Linked DNA regions of Homo sapiens: region 1 is linked to region 2. The links come from fine-mapping of genetic effects on gene expression. A gene starts in region 2. The other region holds a variant in brackets. All regions are shown on one strand. Distances are from middle to middle. Region 1 overlaps KRT71 (keratin 71). Region 2 holds the start of KRT73-AS1 (KRT73 antisense RNA 1).

What was found. PIP is the estimated chance that this variant, and not a neighbour inherited with it, causes the effect.
Region 1: its variant is the best candidate, but not a certain one, in a credible set for the expression of KRT73-AS1 in whole blood (INTERVAL, PIP 0.86).

Annotation. Positions count from the first base shown.
Region 1 is chr12:52,541,762-52,544,654 of GRCh38, reverse strand. It overlaps KRT71 (keratin 71), which reads left to right. Exons shown (of 9, transcript NM_033448.3): 9 at 1-746. The coding sequence ends at 123. Among named protein-coding and RNA genes, the nearest start is that of KRT71, 9.9 kb to the left of the region's middle. The variant G/A (reference allele first, on the strand shown) is at 1,560.
Region 2 is chr12:52,608,312-52,611,220 of GRCh38, reverse strand. KRT73-AS1 (KRT73 antisense RNA 1) reads right to left here and starts at 1,370. Exons shown (of 3, transcript NR_126005.1): 1 at 1-1,370. It overlaps KRT73 (keratin 73), which reads left to right. Exons shown (of 9, transcript NM_175068.3): 6 at 1-17; 7 at 386-606; 8 at 1,940-1,974; 9 at 2,769-2,909.

The DNA of each region.
Region 1 (2,893 bases), 67 kb after region 2:
ATCTCTGGAGTGTGCAGCGTGAGAGGCGGGGAGGGCAGGAGCCGGGGCAGTGCCAACGATTACAAAGACACCCTAGGGAAGGGTTCCAGCCTGAGTGCACCCTCCAAGAAAACCAGTCGGTAGAGAAGACTGCCCCGGGCCCCGCCTCATTCCATGACCCGGCTCTGGATCCCACACTGTACTTCCCACAGCCCACTCTCAGCTCCATCTCCACCCTGCTGGTCCTGCTCCCATACACCTGGCACTGGCCTTGGCCACCCACTTCTCCCAGCCTGTGTCTTCCTGATCCTGGGAAGGCCTGGATGACCAAGCTTGGTGAAATTCCTCCCTGTACACACCCTATTAACTCCTTGGCTGTGGTCCCCCAGCTACACCACCAGCCCAGGTCCTGGCTGCCAGCTTTCCTCCTCTGCCCGGCCTCTAGCGCAGTCGCTAACTACTCTGCTGGGCTCCCTGGGTCTCTGCCCAAGGCCCCGCACACACTGGGACCTAGCATAGTTCCTGCCTATGCCAGGAGCTGGCTCTGTGTTTAAGAAAAGGAGGACTGAAGGACAAACAACCAAGAGTGGCCCAGTCCCCACCCCCACATCTAGCTCAGTCTCAAATCTGAGTGGGACCAAGTGCAATTCAGGGCCTTTTTCTCCACTCACCTGCACCCAGAAGCAGAGAAAAGCAGGCACTGTTCACTTTTCCTTTATTCTTAATGGCCTTCCTCTGTTGCAACCTCAATAAACAGCACAATCTCATGGCTTGGTCTCTGAGTATTCAAAGTATGCACATGCACCTCAATTCACTCACATGAGCGCGCACCATGTACATTCATGAATGCATGAAGCACAAACACACACACACAAGTACATCACTGTGTATTGCCCATGCAGCCTATATGTCTGTGTTAATTTTCAGGAGGCAAATGGGGTGTGGAGCAGGGTCTGGGAGGAGGGGCAGGGAGGGAGGAAAGGAGAAGCCCAGAAAGCGTGTGCATGTACTGGCTGGAGGCTTCAGCAGATGGACATGCACAAACTGTGTCCAGTGACAGAGAAATGGTCGTGTTCCTGACCTGACCTTGCCTCTTTCTGAGACTGCACCTTTCCTCGTTGGAAGGTGGGCTTAGTGCACAGGTATTTGCATTTGTCCAGCCCTTTTCTCACCGCTCAGAGGCCTGGCCTCCTGCGGGGGTCAGCAGGTGGGAGTCCCACACTCTTGGCTTCTCAGATGGAAAGATAAGTAACAAGTCTTGGAAGTTGGGGCTGGTGTAGGGAGGAGTGAGCTGGGGTCCCACCATGGGGTGGGGGTGGGCTATGAATTTCAGTGACTGGGGGGTTGGCACTGCCCCAGACATACTCCTATCCCACCTTCCAGAACCACTATGGTGATGGCCAGTCCTGCCTTGGTAAGGGGTGTAAGGAGAGTGAACAGACAGATTCCCTAGGCCAGCTCTGTGTCTTGGGTGGGGAGGGGAGGTGTAGGAGGCTCAGGGCATTTGCAGGTGGGTGGGAAGCCAACGTCTTTGCAGTGAGTGGGCAGCGACCTAGTCTCACAGTAGCCACACTAATGAC[G/A]TCATCTGGGGGAAGGAAGAGGGTTTCAGTTTCATAAAGGAGCAGGGAGGCCTGGTATTGGGGCTGGGCTGGAGGGGGATCAGAGGATGAAGGTTTGGGGCAAGAAGACCAAGTATAATGGAAGAGGAAGACAGAGGGTCCGGAGGAAGGGACGGATGGTCTGAGTTGACATCTAGGACATTTAGAGTAGTGACTGGGGCTTAGGGCAAGGCTCAAAAGCCCCTGCCCAGGAGATGGTCAGAGCCGGAGACTCCTGGCTGTCATCAACCTGTCAGCACCGTCATCTAGCAGGTGGGTAAGTGGAATAAGACTCAACAACATGTTTGCGTCCTTGATTGATAAGATGAGGCATGTGTGTGTGTGCATGCATGTGTGTGTGTGTGTGTGTGTGTTCAGTACTGGGCACAGACATTGCCATTTCCTCAGTGAAGGCACCATGCACACCTGCTGCCTTTGCTAGCCTCCTGCCTTTGCAACAGTAGGGACCGAGGTTGGATAGCAGAAAGAACTTTCCAGTTGAGAGGCTAAAAGAAATGGCTAGATTCTCAAATGTGAAGGTGGAGGCTTCTCTAGATGATGCTGGTTTATCTCACAGATTTGAGGAGGGAGGGAAGAACTCCCTTTATGCCCCAGGGCTCACAGAGTTCTCCTGAGTGGGCAGGGTTATCCTGGGTTCTGAGTCTGTTTTCTAGAGCCACAAAACCAAGTGCTGGAGACTGGAGCCTCCTGCAGGAGACTCAGAAACCCAGCACTGGGGCCCATGGCAGGGGCCTGAGCTATCAGCTTGACAGGTTCCAGCATGAGAAGGCAGGGCTTGATGGACAATTTTGGGAGCAAGTGAGGGCTCTGAGGAAAGGAAATAATGACAATGACTAGCAGGCAAGGTGTCCACCATGTGAATCTACATGGTAATTTGGTTATGGCTGCCAAGAGTAGTAGTTCTTTAAACAGGCTGAAAAATAACCCAGGAACTTAGAAAAATATTGCTGTCTAAGTCTCTACTCCAAACCAATTAAGTAAGGCTACCAGAAGTAGGGCCTAAGCACTGACTGGTGTATTTTAAAAGTCAGCAACGGAGTTCTAATGAGCAGCCAGAACCGGGAGCCATCAGCCTAAACTGTGATTTGGGGGATGCTATGGTGGCATCCAGATACAGATGGAAAGAATGGTTTGATCGATTAGTAATGTCTGCCACGGTCACCAGTGGAGGAAGTGATAGTGCATATTTTTCTTCTGATGGGTGCCTACCTGTTGCTTTACAGTTTAAAAAGCATTTTCATGCCCATTGCCTAAGAACAGCTCTGGGAGTGAAGGACTGTTGTTACGGCCATTAT
Region 2 (2,909 bases):
AGAGTGTGAAGAAGCAGGTGAAGGGGACTGGAGCCTTCCTTACTCACTCCTAAGGGAGGGGTGAACTGCTTAGCACCCCCTGCCCCCTCCTTCTCTTGAGCATCCATTTCAGAATCCCCTTCTTCAAATGGAGGTCCTGCTCTCATCCCTCACCCTTAGCTCCCATCTGAAGTTTGGAACAATTGCAGATTATTTTCATAAAGCTGTGGGGCCCAGCGTAGCAAGCCTCTCAGTCTCAGGTTGACAGGACTCCACCTGGATGTGGCTGGGTCTCTGCTCCAGGACATGGGGCAGGACAGAGGAGGGCTCAACCATTGAGAGCATGGGAGAGGTGAAGCGAGGCCCAGGGAGGAACTCAGGGAGAAATGCTACCTCCTGACCCCAGTGTGCCAACCTGGAGACGGCCATCGCTGACGCCGAGCAGCGGGGGGACTGTGCCCTCAAGGATGCCAGGGCCAAGCTGGATGAGCTGGAGGGCGCCCTGCAGCAGGCCAAGGAGGAGCTGGCACGGATGCTGCGCGAGTACCAAGAGCTTTTGAGCGTGAAGCTGTCCCTGGATATTGAGATCGCCACCTACCGCAAGCTGCTGGAGGGCGAGGAGTGCAGGTGGGTGGGACCGAGGGACTGGAAGAAACTGCAAGTCTCCACCTTAAAGTTTCCCAGAGTGTGGTTGGGGGCGGGGGGGAGGGGGCGGCGAGCTGGCGATGTGTTTACTTCACCCACAAGCATAGTTTCAAACAGCATCCTGCCAGATAATGTGACAGCAATTTCCTTTACAGTTCTCTTTTGACTCTTTGGAGAAAGTCTTAGCTGGGTGCTGTTGTGTCTTTAACACCTCTCAGATGGCCAGGCGCAGTGGTTCGTGCCTGTAATCCCAGCACTTTGGGAGGCTGAGGCGGGTGGATCACCTGAGGTCAGGAGTTTGAGACCAGCCTGGCCAACATTGGAGAAACCTCGTCTCTACTAAAAATACAAAAGTTAGCTGGATGTGGTGGTGCATGCCTGTAATCTTAGCTACTTGGGAGGCTGAGTCAGGAGAATCGCTTGAACCCAGGAGGCTGAGGTTGCAGTGAGCTGAGATCCTGCTACTGTCCTCCAGCTTGGGTGACAGAATGAGACTCCATCTCAAAAACAAACAAACAAACAAACAAACAAACAGACAAAACACAAAAACACCTCTCAGACACTTACAAATATCCCCTATTGATAAAGAGACAGTAGATCTCAGGTGCAGCATCTCTGGGAAAATAATAGCATTATTTAGCCCAAAAGTTTTAAATTGTTTTCTTTTCATTATATTTATTTTTACTGCTACTTTTTTTCTTATTTGGTTAGGTAATAATACTGGTTTCTATTTACCCTGGTGATAAAAAACTTCTTTTTAAAAGAAATGCACTTTTGTCGTAAAAGGCAGAGTCAATTAAAAATACTAAATATCTAACAGTACAAGTCAAACATGGTCCTAGCAACAGTCAGAAGGGTGGCACACGAAGCATGAACATTTGAAAAACCCTGTTCTAACCAAGCACCATTTTATAACTGAGACCTGGAGAGAAGTCACTTGCCCCAAAATCATACAGTTCGTTCATTAGTAGCAACTCCTGATCCTGATCTTTCCACATATGTATTTATTCAGACAGCTGCTCACAGTAGTAAAGAAATGGGTTCAAGAGAAACCCTGCAGGAGGGACCTTGGGGGTGGTAATGTTGTTGGGGGTTCCAAAGTTGCAGGTTCCACATCTCTGCAGTGGGAAGAGTAGATTGAGGAGCGAGAGGGAGGGCTTAGAGACATGCAAGGGCAGCCAGTGCCATCTGGCAAGTGTGGGGTGCGTGAAGGCTGAGCTGGTCTGGCTGGGGATCCCCAGCCTGTGTTTAGGCAGTGAGGGCCACTATGGGAGTCCACGTGATTCAGACTCTCCTGTGCTTTTCTCTCTTGCAGGATGTCCGGAGAATATACCAACTCCGTGAGCATTTGTGAGTATTTCATGACTCTGAGGGAATACTTTTAGTCCATCAACAAACACAAAGTGGGTGGGTGTCCACCGCCCAGCCCCCTGAGGAAGAGCTTGGCTCTGCCTGTTGACCACTTGGTCACATACTCACCTTCCTTGCTGAGACCTGCGGCCTCCCCATTCAGAGCTACTTCTTCCAGGTGGAGCTAGTGCCCAGGACATTCTGATACTGCACACTAGCCTCTTTCATAGCAATCTCCTGCCTGCTGTGGTGAAACTCTCAGCCCCTCCCCTCTTCTGTCACCCCCACACCGGCTCTCCTGCATGAAGGAAACTGAGCACAGAGTGGTGCCTCCTCAATGGGAGTGGAGACTGGTGTGTGGACCACTGTGCAAGCCAGTTTAATGCTGGCCCCACAGGGTTTGGCAGTCTCTTTCTTATAGTGGGACCAGCAGAAACTCCCTAATTTTAACAATCAGGAAATTCTTTTGAAAAATACTCAGAAGGTATTGTAAAGCTAAATGCAAGAACCTGCTGGCTTATCTGATGCTCAAGCATCATCTGTCCCCTGGGGAAAGCCCTTGCTACTCCTGTTTGTTCATAGAATGACAAGGTGACTGACTTGGGAGTCTTGCAGGACTGGGGCTATTCTTCCCGCGCTTGAGTTGCTCAAATGAACCCAAGTTCATGGTTGATGGGAAGTGTTTGCTTAAGAAGGAGGTATTTAAGCTAGTGGGGCTGGGAGGTTGGAGGGGGACTTAAGGCCACCTCTGTCCTGGGATATACACTGATCACTCGTCCCTCCCTCCTCTGCAGCGGTCATCAACAGCTCCATGGCCGGGATGGCAGGCACAGGGGCTGGCTTTGGATTCAGCAATGCTGGCACCTACGGCTACTGGCCCAGCTCTGTCAGCGGGGGCTACAGCATGCTGCCTGGGGGCTGTGTCACTGGCAGTG